Homo sapiens: one gene and its partners. The protein of the gene in region 3 purifies or fractionates together with the protein of the main gene of each other region. This does not show direct contact. Each region holds a gene or a part of one and is shown on either strand. Other genes may lie near its edges.

What was found. Proteins that work in one complex are often made in the same cells at the same time.
Region 1: the proteins of BNIP5 (region 3) and MTHFR purify together in Homo sapiens (affinity purification with mass spectrometry; one large-scale study listed by BioGRID and IntAct). This does not show direct contact.
Region 2: the proteins of BNIP5 (region 3) and PDLIM5 purify together in Homo sapiens (affinity purification with mass spectrometry; one large-scale study listed by BioGRID and IntAct). This does not show direct contact.
Region 4: the proteins of BNIP5 (region 3) and ANKRD17 purify together in Homo sapiens (affinity purification with mass spectrometry; one large-scale study listed by BioGRID and IntAct). This does not show direct contact.

The regions. Positions count from the first base shown.
Region 1 is NC_000001.11:11,792,465-11,795,964, forward strand, and holds part of MTHFR (methylenetetrahydrofolate reductase (NADPH)), read right to left. Parts: intron 2,885-3,500; coding exon 2,634-2,884; intron 2,400-2,633; coding exon 2,265-2,399; intron 2,075-2,264; coding exon 1,894-2,074; intron 1,626-1,893; coding exon 1,443-1,625; intron 1-1,442. UniProt on the Homo sapiens protein: Catalyzes the conversion of 5,10-methylenetetrahydrofolate to 5-methyltetrahydrofolate, a cosubstrate for homocysteine remethylation to methionine. Represents a key regulatory connection between the folate and methionine cycles.
Region 2 is NC_000004.12:94,573,942-94,577,441, reverse strand, and holds part of PDLIM5 (PDZ and LIM domain protein 5), read right to left. Parts: intron 1,827-3,500; coding exon 1,408-1,826; intron 1-1,407. UniProt on the Homo sapiens protein: May play an important role in the heart development by scaffolding PKC to the Z-disk region. May play a role in the regulation of cardiomyocyte expansion. Isoforms lacking the LIM domains may negatively modulate the scaffolding activity of isoform 1.
Region 3 is NC_000006.12:36,317,575-36,319,888, forward strand, and holds part of BNIP5 (protein BNIP5), read right to left. Parts: intron 2,037-2,314; coding exon 1,782-2,036; intron 1-1,781.
Region 4 is NC_000004.12:73,140,299-73,143,798, forward strand, and holds part of ANKRD17 (ankyrin repeat domain-containing protein 17), read right to left. Parts: intron 2,470-3,500; coding exon 2,342-2,469; intron 2,088-2,341; coding exon 1,944-2,087; intron 1,546-1,943; coding exon 1,443-1,545; intron 1-1,442.

The sequences.
Region 1 (3,500 bases), on a different chromosome or scaffold from region 3:
GCCATGTGGGCGGAATAATGAACTGTGGCGTTGGCACGTCCATAAGCAAAGGGTGAGGGGAGTGGGGACGTGAGTTTCTCAGTCTGGACAGGTCTGAGGGCTATCAGCCACCCCTCTCCCAATCAGTCAGGGAAGACTCCACGAAGAAGCCATTTCTGAACAGCAGCAACTGGTTTGACAGGCCGAGTCATGGGAGAGAGGCCCCACACATTCCATCCTCCCCAGTGCAAGCTGACAATGACATTGACATCTCCTCTAGAACCAGTGCCTATCAGGGATTAAGCTGGGTTTACTCAAACTCATTTGCTAGAATGCTGATAATACGGGAGGCTGGGCACAGTGAGCCCCACGTGAGGAAAGTGGGTTCAGGGAAGTTGAGCACGTTGGCTACTCTGACAGTAAACAGTAGAGCTGGTCCTTAAACTCAGGTCTTTCTGCTCCAGGGCCTGTGGGCCTTAGATCAGAACATAATGTTAACTCCAGCAGCCCTGGGAGAAAGGTGTCAACTCAGGATAGTAACAGCAGCTGCCTTTCAGGGAGTGCTTCCTGCTCTTACCATGTGCCAAGCACGTTACATGCTTTGTTAGGTTTCATGCCCAGAACACAAGCTACATCCCATTTTACAGACGAGAAAACCAGGCTCAGAGAGGTCGAGTGACCTGCCTCCATAGGTCTGATTTCTATCTTTTTTTTTTTTTTTTTGAGATGGAGTCTTGCTCTGTTGCCCAGGCTGGAGTGCAGTGGCATGATCTCAGCTCACTGCAACCTCCGTCTCCCGGGTTCAAGCGATTCTCCTGCCTCAGCCTCCCAAGTAGCTGCAACTACAGGTGCCCGCCACCACACCCGGCTAATTGTTGTATTTTTAGTAGAGATGGGGTTTCATCATGTTTGTCAGGCTGGTCTCGAACTCCTGACCTTGTGATCTGCCCACCTTGGCCTCCTAAAGTGCTGGGATTACAGGCATGAGCCACCAAGCCCAGCCAATCTTTTTTTTTTTTTTTTTTTTTTTTTTTTGAGACAGGGTCTCACTTTGTGGGCCAGGCTGGAGTGCAGAGGCACAAATATGGCTTACTGGAGGCTCAACCTCTCGGACTCAAGCGATCCTCTCACCCCAGCCCCCTAAGTACCTGGGACTACAGGTGTACACCACCATGCCTCGGTCATTTTTGTATTTTTTGTAGAGAATGGGTTTCACCATGTTGCCCAGGCTGGTCTCGAACTCCTGGGCTCAAGTGATCCACCCGCCTTGGCCTCCCAAAGTGCTGGCCGGGTTCCGTGCCCAGCCAGGTCTATCTGACTTAAAGCATGAGCTCCCATCCGCTCCAATCCATGCTCATTCAAAATTTAAGAGCCCAGGAGAGGCAGGCTGCTCTGCCCTAAGCTCTGGGGAACCCACGGGTGCCGGTCAAGAGAGGGGGGCACCCCGTGCCTCCCTACCACACCTTCTGGAAGACATAGCCCCCGCTGGGGCCCCAGCCCACGATGGGGTCGGAGGACGGCTTCCCGTTGATGTTGGGCTGTGAGTTGATGGTGAGGATGCCCTGGCGGTTCACCCGCAGCAGCTCCTCCTTCAGCAGGCTGGTCTCAGCCGCCAGGGGCTCATCGTTCCAGGGCAGGCAAGTCACCTGGGAGAGACGGTGAGCTGGCTGGGGCGACCATCAGGTTTGGCACCCTGAGTCCCTCTCACGGCCCCCAACAAAGACCCAGCCTGTCTTTGCCTCCCTAAGCCCTTCCAGGTGGAGGTCTCCCAACTTACCCTTCTCCCTTTGCCATGTCCACAGCATGGAGGGGAGGGCACAGGATGGGGAAGTCACAGCCCCGCAGCCTGGCCTGCAGCTGGGGTCAGGCCAGGGGCAGGGGATGAACCAGGGTCCCCACTCCAGCATCACTCACTTTGTGACCATTCCGGTTTGGTTCTCCCGAGAGGTAAAGAACGAAGACTTCAAAGACACTTTCTTCACTGGTCAGCTCCTCCCCCCACATCTTCAGCAGCTCCTCCTTGGGGGACTTGCTCTTCAGGTAGAAGAGGTAGTAGTCCTTCAGCTCCCCAAAGGCAGGGGAAGAGGAATTGCCCCTGGCAGAGGGGTGCCCAGAGGTCAGGGCACACTCCTGACAGAGGGCAGTGCCACCACATGCCCAGGAGGCCATTCCTGTAAATTCTGCCCCTGACTCCTCCCAGGTCAACCACAAGCATGCAAACTTCTTCTGCCCTCCCGCTCCCAAGAACAAAGATGTATTTGCAAGGAAGGTCTGCAGGCCCTCACCAGCGGCCGTTAGGGAACTCGTCCCACTCCTGGGTACGGTAGATGTAACTCTTTGGTCTGGAGGCCCAGAAGATGGGACGTACATCTTCCTCTCGGCGCTTGGGGTGGGCGCTGAGAGCCCAGGGTAGGGGACGCCTGGGTGAGGATGGGGACAGAGAATTGAGACAAGGGATTGGCTAGAGGGAGCCGGAAGCAGGGGAGCACCCCTGAGGCTGAGTTCTTCCATCTGATGCCCTCTGAGACTGGAGCCTTCGATGTGCCCAGCTAGCCATGGCACAGACATCCATCTGTACCACCGTGGGGAGCCAGCACTGCAGCCGGGGCTGCTCTTGGACCCTCCTCTGGGGATCTCTGGGCCACTGCCCTCACCTGGGGTCCTCAGTCCACATCCCCAGGCGCTTCAGCACCTCTGTGGTAGCCATCTCGCGGTTGAGGGTGTAGAAGTGGAGGCCTGGCACCAAGCCACTGGCCAGAAGCTCCTGGCACAGGCTCACGGCCAGCTCGATGCCATAGTTGCGGATGGCAGCATCGTTGTCTTTGATTGGCTCAATCACGTCCTTGATCTCCTGTGGCACCTCCAGCTTGGACAGCTTCACAAGCTGCCGAAGGGAGTGGTAGCCCTGTCCAAGACATGAGGGGCTGTGGCGGCTGCTGGCCAGCCCGTCTCCCACCCTAAATACTTCTCCCCCTTCCATCATCCATGCCAACCACAGTGTCAGGCAGAGGGACCCACGAAAGTCCGATCATATTCTAGGAGCACACCTGGGCTTGGCCTGCCGTTTTCTCCTCTTTTTTCTGTTTTTAGAGACTGAGTCTCACTGCTCTCAAACGCCAGGGCTCAAGCCATCCTCCTGCCTCAGCTTCTCAAGTAGCCGGGACTACAGGCACGTGCCACTATGCCCAGCTTTCCCACTTTTTACAGAGTAGAGCAGCTGCCCTAAGCATTCCAGCCTTGGGTTGAGCCAGCCTTTTAGCCCTAGATGTGTCTGTTGGTAACATGGTGTCATCTAACCCAGCTGTTCCCATGCTGCACTGATCATCCGAATCACCTGCCAAGCTCAAGAAGTAAAACACACATTCCGAGGACCTCCCTCAGATTTACTGAGTGAGAACCTCCAGGGGTGGGACCTGGAGATCCACTTTTTGAAAAAGCTTATCAAGTGGTTCTGATGACAGCCACCTTTGGGAAACACTGATTTAAGCAGGATTTGTAATGAGAATTAGAATCCCTTTTGG
Region 2 (3,500 bases), on a different chromosome or scaffold from region 3:
CCTCAAGACCGTATGTACAGCCCAGGAGCTGTTCTTCTAGAGCTCCTGCTCTCCCTCTCTCAGCAGCAGCCTGGAGTTTTGCCACCTTCTCTTTCAAAGCCCCAAAGTTGCCATGGCAGCAGTGCTACAGAAAGCACAGCCTCTTCATTACAGGAATTAACATTCAGAAGGGATTATCTCAGAGAATGGACCTATCCACACAAGTATTTTAATTATATTTTCCTGGGAACTGGCATTGGTAAAAACCATCAGGCCTGTAGACTATTTCCCTTTGTCTTCCTTTTAAGGTACATTTTTGTCACAATAAATCTGATAAAAATGATTTTACATAAATGACTGCCTTAAAGTATCATCCCTGAATTCCAAAAGCAATAAAATGACCATCATTATTCTCTCTCTTTTCTTTACTTTTTTCTTTGCAAGTAGGATTACATTATAGAAAAGAATTATTTTTAAAAAAGATACTGTACATAACCTCTCACGGCCAACTTAAATCCTTGCTCCTCAACATAAATTTCTGACTATCTGATAACATTATATTTGAACCGAAAGTGTTAAAAAAAAATAAACAAATAATTGAAGGTTGCTGAAAAACAGATGTGTGATCTTATAACTATGTGTAGTTCAAATAAGTTAATAACTTCAACCAATTTTTTTAATAAAAAGATACCCCCAAAAGGGAAAAACGATAAGAAACAGATTTTCAAAGTGTTCTGCTAACATGTATGTTTAGTGTCCAATGGCTTAAATTTACTCATTTCAGAAAACGTTTACAATGAAAGTATTTTATAATTTGCTTCTAATGCTTTCTAAGCGTGCCTTGTTGTTTCATTACTGTCTGCTTTTAAAGAATAAATTCTAACTTAAACTTATCTGAAAACAATGTTGTTAGCTCTCTGCTCTAAGCTAATGCTTCACATATAGACATGAGTCAAAAGCGGACTGGTTTTCCTAAGATTACCTCCTAGAAAAAAAACCCCTTACAAATTCATGATTTCCCCTCTCCTTACGATGAGTTGTGTAAGGTGACAGCAACTGTAACCACTGTTTGAACTTTTGGTGGCCTATTTAAAAGAATGAAAAAATTGAGGAAGAAAGATTCAAGATTTGCCTTGCATTACAAGTGCCAGCTGCTCAATGCTGTGTCGGGACTTACAAAAAATGAGTTACAGAGATGTTACATGGTTCAGAACATGTCAAAATGCACAAGTAGCTTTTGAATAAGTGATAATTGCTTTGCAGAAAGTACCCTATGTATATAAAGGCCATATGTTAATGAGGCAAATAATACTTCATCTCCCTTCCTTCAAAGAAAGTTGGTTTTGGGGGAGAGGAATGTAGAGTATTTCCTGGAAATTACCTGAAAGAAGAGTTTTAGTAAGAGCAGAAAGCACCTTAGCCACCTACCCATTTTGCTGTTTACTGTCACCCTGGGATCCTCTTCTCTGTCCCTCTGCTAGCTCCTGAGAAGTCTCGGAACACACGCTGGTGACTGTGGGCTGCCGTGGGACATTAACTGCAGTTTTACCAGCGCTCAGTGCAGATGGAGACTGGTCAGCACTAAGATTGGCATTAGCATGCAGTCCAGATGCAGCGAACAGGGGAGGAGTGACGGCAGCCACGGGTGAAGGGGAAGCATGTGATGAGGTGGTCGCATGGGCTGGGGTGAAGGCAGACGATGGTGATGGGATGGATGTGACTTTTGGTGAAGACACAGAACCAAAAGGCCGTGGTGCCTTATTGTAGGCCATGTTGTTTGTGGAAGTGACTTTGGACACAGCAGGAGATGTAATGGGCACAGGTTTAACTACTTCTTTAGGTTCTCCCTATGTAAAACAAAAATAAACATACACAAAACCACACCAAACACATGCAAAATATATTTCACCGAAAAGAACACAGAGCTGATTTTTTAAAAGACAAACACAATCAGGTTAGCAGCTCAAACATCATGTTTCCAGATAAAAACAATGGGCTGATAAAGCATAACGTGCATGCTAACTAGTCCCAACATGCATAACACAGATGCACACATTAGGTATAATTTTTAAAAATAAAAATGAAAGTAGTTTCAAAATATTTCGGAAATACAGCAGGAAAACTATCAGAAAGCCTAAAGCCCCTCATCAGTGTCAACCTAGGCATATTCCAAAGGAAAAATGTTTAAATACCCTACAATAAACAAAACATTGCTAACTGAGGTGTTTTTTATGTTAAAATATCCAAAGCCCATCTTTCCATCTTTCAAAGCCCATAGTCCCATTTTTCAAACATGTTTCATTTCTCTCCAGAGTGGAATCATTTGTTTCACGCAGAAGGAGCAGCACATTTCTAACTCTTTAAGTTTAAAAAAACAAAAAACACAGGGAATAAGATAATTTTCACCTAACTCAGGAATGTGCAAACTCTAATTAATAATCTTAAAGAATTTGAAAAAAAAAAAAAAACTTTAAAAAAGCAAATAAAACAAAATCCTTTCTTTCTTGTAATCCACCTCCATTTCTCTCTCTGAATGTTTTAAGATATGATTCAGAGATAGAATAAAATTCTTTTCCTTTTCCAAAATAAATATTTAATAGTTACATGAAGAAAAAAAAATCTTCAATATTTCCCCATCGTCAGCAGCCAAAGAAAAAACAACTAGTAAGAAAGGTCAATTCCTCCTAAAATTACCAGAATTTTTATTTGCCAATCCTTATTCCAAAGCATATTTAAAGTTAAACAAAATCAGACTAAGCTTCTACAACATTCAAGAATAAATCCCAGGAGGCGGGATAGCTCAGAGGTAGAGCGTTAGACTTCAGATCAAGAATAAATCCCTATTCCACCCTACCATATCAAAAGAAAAAATCAAATTTTTGAAAAATCATACAATGGTGGTTCTACTGTTTAATTTTAAGAAAAAAGGTAATCTCAATTCATCTTGTTTTTTTTTTTTTTTTTGAGACAGGAGTCTTGCTCTGTCACTGAGGCTGGAGTGCAGTGGTGTGATCTCAGCTCACTGTAACCTCCACTTCCCGGGTTCAAGTGATTCTCCCACCTCAGCCTCCTGGCTAGCTGGGACTACAGATGCGTGACACCATGCCCAGCTAATTTTTGTATTTTCAATAGAGATGAAGTATCACCATGTTGGCCAGGCTGGTCTCAAACTTCTGACCTCAGGTGATCCGCCTGCCTCGGCCTCCCAAAAAGATGGGATTACAGGCGTGACCCACCGCGCGCAGCCTCAATTCATCTTATAGGAAGAAGAAAACTAATTGAGAAAAATAAGTAGCTTAGTGCCCACACGAATCAATACAGGTTGAGTATCCCTTATTTAGACAGCTTGGGACCAGAAGCATTCAGATTTCAGATATTCTCAGATTTTTGAATCTTTGTAGAATGCAGGAGCATCCCTAATCCAAGAATCCAAAATCTGAAATGCTGCAATGGTCATGTGAGCATGTCAGTGTTCAGAAAGTTTGGGATTTTGGAGCATTTTGGATTTTCTAATTAGGGAT
Region 3 (2,314 bases):
CCATTCTCAAAGGTCAAAATCAGCAACTCCACCTCCTGGAAGGCTCCCAGGACCTACTTGCTTCATGGGCCTCAGCTACCACTCATTTGGTATTTGGTTGCTATTTAATTTTGTCATCAAACTGTTGTCTTTTCCATTGGCAGATGAAGCCTTTGAAGGCAGAACCTTCCACAGAGCCTCACAGCCCTTTGCACAACTAAGCACATAGGAGGCTGTCAATAGCTACCAGTTAAATGAATGAATGAATGAATGAATGAATGGTTAGTAAAACCAGAAGATGGAGTCAGGGCAACTGAGGATGTCAGAACTGATGTTTCTATAATATCTTTCACGAATAACTCAGATCGATCTGTAAGCTATTACCTAAGCCACCCTAGAGGGCAAATTATCTGTAACATTCCTATTCTCTAGGAGAAGACAGTGAAGCCAAGGAGAGAGAGAGGTCCATGGTAAGGAGGATTTCTGACCAGGAAAATGAACCGAAGTAGAGGAGAGCATTTGAATGACAAGATACAACTACCATGAAATAAGCCAGCTCTCTTGAGAGACTTTTCAAATGGCTTCTAAAGGTAATTCCAAGAAAGACAGAAGTGTTTCGGGTGATAGTAGCATCATTGCAAAAGGTTTCCCAGGGGACCACTTGGATGTAGAAGTTCCGGTCCTGTTTGTCCAACACCAGCAAACAGAACATTTCATTCCTCTAAAGTTACACCTTCATTCAGAGGCTTCTACGCTGTGGATCTGGGTCAAATGTTTGTAAGCAGGTTATGTTAAGTGAATTAGAAAAGGATGAAGAAATCTTTATCAGAGTCCACCAGAAAATATGAGAGCTCAGAATTTTTAAAAAATCAGGCCAGCTGTGGTGGCTCATGCCTGTAATCCCAGCACTTTGGGAGGCCAAGGTGGGAAGATTTCTTGTGGCCAGGAGTTCAAAAGCAGCCTGGTCAACATAGTGAGAATCCATCTCTATACCAAAAAAAAAAAAAAGAAAATTTAAATTAGCTAGGCGTGGTGGCATGCTCCTGTAGTCCCAGCTACTTGAGAGGCTGAGGTGGGAGGATCATCTGAGCCCAGGAAGGTTGAGGCTGCAGTGAACCGTGATTACACCACTGCACTCCAGCCTGGGTGACAGAGCAAGACCCTGTCTCAAAAAAAAATCAGTGACAAGCATCATCTCTGAAGGGAATATCTCAGAGACTTGGGGGAGGCGAAATTATTAGGAAAAGCATAAATGCACTCAGAACAGTGAAGGTGACGGCAGGAGAGAGGCTGTTCATTAAGCAACCAAGGCCAGGTCAGTGAGTGATCGCCTCCTGGAAGCCTTCCAGAACCAACAGCCCATGGAGCCTTCTTGTCTATCTCAGCCACCCCTTATTTGATAGATAACCTTACTTTGTTATTTACATTTTATGACAGCCTAGAATTGAGAAGCCAAGCAACAGAGCCCACAAAATAATAACAAGGCAAGCTAAGATCGTAGCCAGTCCAATATGCCATTCTATCAAAAAGCATGGAAATGTACATGTAATTGAAGACTAGAGCCAAATAAACAAGATGTTAATTATGGAGTAAAATCAGTGAGGTTTCAGAAAAGAAAAAGGTTGTCATGGTTTAGAATTGTCTCAGAAGGCCTCAGTGAGGAGGTGACATTTGAGATAGACCCAAAAATTCTGAACTGAGCAGGGGAGGGGAGAGGAGGATAAGTAGATCCCACTGGAGGCCAGCTGTGAGCCTGCTGTCACTCATGCTACATTGCCATTGTCTTCCCCGCCCTCTCTCACCGGCTGGTCCTCCCTGTATGGGAACTGGGTGCAATTGTAGTGGTCTCTTAGGCCCATGAGGATGCACATGGCATGGCTGTTGCTGCCAGCAAATTTGTTAGCTAAGCTAACGTCAAACTGGTAGAGTCTCCTGGCGCGGTTCCTGTCCAGCTTAGAGGAGTGAGCCACCTGGCTGCGCAGGGTGGCTACCAGCTTGCTGAGGGAGGAGTCCGAGAACTCGTAAAAAAACCTCTTAAAGCTGGGGTGGCGCCTGATCTGGAAGTGGAAATGAAAACAGGTCATTAGTGTTGCTGGCAGTACCCCTCCCGCCAACTGCCCCTCCCACAACTCCATGCAGCCAGGCGGGGCACTCCTTGTCCCTGGGATGAGCTCCCCTTGTTACATCCCTCCACTGCCCCTAGCCTCTCAGAATCTGTTCTGCGAGGTCCAGCTCAAAGCAGCAGGACAAAGTAGAGGGCAAGGGTGGAAGTACAGGTCTTTAGACTCAGATAATTCAGAAGCAAACACCCCACAGAGTCTTCTCGTCTACCCTA
Region 4 (3,500 bases), on a different chromosome or scaffold from region 3:
ACCCCCTCAGAAGTGCACATGAATGGCATCCTCATTACAGAGTTACTGTTGGGAGGTTTAGTGCCAACAGTTATGCACTAAGTAATCATATCCATAACAGGTGAAAATGCACTGTTAAAAAATTAAAAACAAATCCACCTTCTTTTTCACAAATATAAAATGTATGTATTTTATGTGCAAAATCTTTGTAAATTAATTTCAGAATCTTAAAAATAGCACATGGCTTAAATTAGACAATAGAGGAATGCAGGTTTGTGATATCTAAGTGTGCAATTAAAGTAACATCTAAGGCTATGTGTAGATATTTTATATGGTCATAAAGATGTTAAAACTCATCATAAGAACAGAACAATAATGCTAAATTATTAGGGTGAAGAGGAAACAGACCTCTAAGTCAGGTTTTTTCACATTTCATAGTCTGTGCCTTTTAAACACACACACATACACACAAAAAGTACCCAAACCACTAAGAAGTAACAAGAAATTAAAATCTGAGTAAAATATATGTCTTTGTTGGGGCCTACCATCTTCAAGACTAATAGAGGCAAGATATAAATTCACATATTCACACAGCTATCTGGCCAGTAGAGAATTGGGATTCAGTTTCCCTGGAAGAAAAGATGCTGGACTATGCCATCCACTGTATCTTCTGACAGCCAGGTGAACAGACAGATCTGGCTATAGGTATAGCAATCAATTGTTTGCTATACCAACTGAAAAAGGTGCCAAGGCTCTAGGTTGATAGTAGTGACTGAAAAGAGCTGGTGAAAATACTTAGCATTCTTGTTCATAAAAGAGTATACGTAGCCAAAAACCAAAAAATAAAAACTGCACTGTTTCTTCAGGTAAAACTTTTAAAAAGAAAAACTGATTCAAACCGGTAGGTATAAAATGTTTGGGGACATTACTTAAGAACACACATGGTGTAACATACACAAGTCAAATATGGACCTCAGAATTCTAGAGAAATAAACAAGCATATCTCAAGTAACTGAATTATTGGTTGAGAAAAGGTATCCCAGATCAGATATAAAATCTATATTAAGCCAGTCATTCTAAAATAAATTTCTAATATTTGATACATCTTGTTAATTTATGCCTTTATAACTGCAGAGATTTAGGTAAGTAATTTATAAAAATATTGCTCAACTATACCCAGCTTAACATTTTACATGAATAAAAATTACTATTAAAGGAAATCATGGATAATCAGAACTGCATCAAAGATGAGCATCTGAATTTCTCATGCTAAAACTTCTAATTGTAGCACAAATTAGTGCTATTAACTATTTTTTTCTCCCAATAACATGCTTTTATCATGGGTTAAAAATTTAGTAATGCCAACTTAGTAAACTTCTTTGTTTGTAGAAATGTCTATTTTTTGGTAATCTTATTTTTACCTGGACACCAAGTAAGAAACAGTCTTTAGAAGTATAACTGACCTTTATTCCTGATGGGAAGAGTGGTGGCAACATTGGCAGGTGGTTTGTCAGGCTCCTGAGGTGGAACAACCATGGGCAGTGCTTGAACTGGTACACGAGGAGCCTAAGACAAAGGACACTAAGTGACTATTAGTGTCCTACACAATCCATTAAGTAATATGCTCTAAATAAAGAATAAATTAGAGATTTTTTGACAATATTTTTAATATGTCATCTTAGACAATGACATATTTACTTAAAATATGTTGGCACCAAATTGTTTACCACGACATTTTTTAGTAGGCTTTGAATTCAAGTTGTGACCTTTAAAAGCTAAAGCATAATCATATCATCTAGGATCTGAATATTGTACCAGATGTTCATTAACTGTATCAAGTACATATTTACAAACAGAACTACATATTAGAACAAAAAAAAACCCTAATTTAAACAGAAACTGTAAGTGAAAGAATTAGGATAAAGAAGACATACCATAAAATGCTTTAATTTTTAAAATCTTACCCTATTTAAATCGTGGGATGGGGGAGTTAACTGAGTGACATCTGGTGGAGGGGCTGAAAGCAAGTTATTAGGATAATCCAAGAGATAGCAAACAACACTTGTATGGCCACCTTTTGCTGCTTCTATCAACATAGTTGAGCCATCCTAAAAGAGTGAATATGGAAGGGGAAAAAAAGTGAAGAAAAATAAGTTAGTTTACAGAATCACTTAGGAAGATAAAGCCAACAGGTCCCAGACGCATTAAAATCATAGGTTTGGTAAAGAACGCTTCAAGTGAAAAAGGAGAAAATTTACACTTAGAATGCCATTATGAATGGAACTTGTACATGATATGTTGTAACAATGACCAAGAGAGAAATACTAATTCACAATTCTGCACAAACATTTGAGTTACATACTTTCAAACGGTGAGTAGGATCTGCCCCATGAGCCAAAAGTAGTTCCACCACTGCCAGATGACCCCCTGCACAAGCCAGGGACAGTACAGTATGGTCATTATTAGCTGTGGTTCTATTCACATTCGCTCCTAAAACAGAAAAGGCATGGAAAATCATATTAGTAGAATGGTTTTTCTTAAAATTATGGTAAATTTAAAAATCATGAAGAGTAGAGAAAATAGTATTATGAGGCTCCACATACCCATTACCGAGCTTTAATGATTATAAACACAAGGCCAATCTCATTTCACAAATATCCTACATTAATTCTCCTCTCCCATCTTGGATTATTCTAAAGTAAATAAATCCCAGACAAACACGATATAATTTGAAAAGGTTTGAGTATGCACCAGTAAAAGATACCAAAGTACCCATTACTCCTAATGTAATAACTGTATTAAAAGTAAAATATGAAGTTTTATTTGTATTTTAAGTTCTTCAGTAGAAAAGATGACTGAATAAAAATAAACTATACTGCCCTCTATGGGCTTTATGTAGAGAATAAACACTAAATAGAAAGAATAGTACCATTTTTTTTCCCATTAGTAAATTCCTGACAAGGAAAATAGATAATTCACCCCTATTCCCAAATAGGAATGTATCCCTAATTTATTCGTTTGTTGTTTTCGTAGAAATGGGGTCTTGCCATGCATGTTACCTAGGCTAGTCTCAAACTCCTAGGCTCAAGTGATCCTCCCACCTTGGCCTGCCAAAATGCTGAAATTACAGGCATGAGCCATTGCACCTGACCTCTATCCCTAATTTGGATTACTGTGCTAGGTAATGTGAGAAATGGAAATAAAACAGCAGAAAGAAACTGAAATCAAACTCATTAAAATTAACCAATGAGAGGGGACAGCGATTATGTACATAATGCTATATATTCATAACAGTATTCTAAAGCATATCACCAGTGCATGGGAAAATGTTGAAAGTAATTTCGCCAGTAAGTTATTTCAAATTTTCTTTACCTATAAACAATTATAAACTTGAGATTTCGTTACTATTATTATAATGTGAAGAAAATGGTATATTATTGCCTTTTAAAATTGTATATGGCCTACATCTTTTTTTTGTTTTGAGACAGGTTCTCACTCTGTCACCCTGGCTGGAGTGCAGT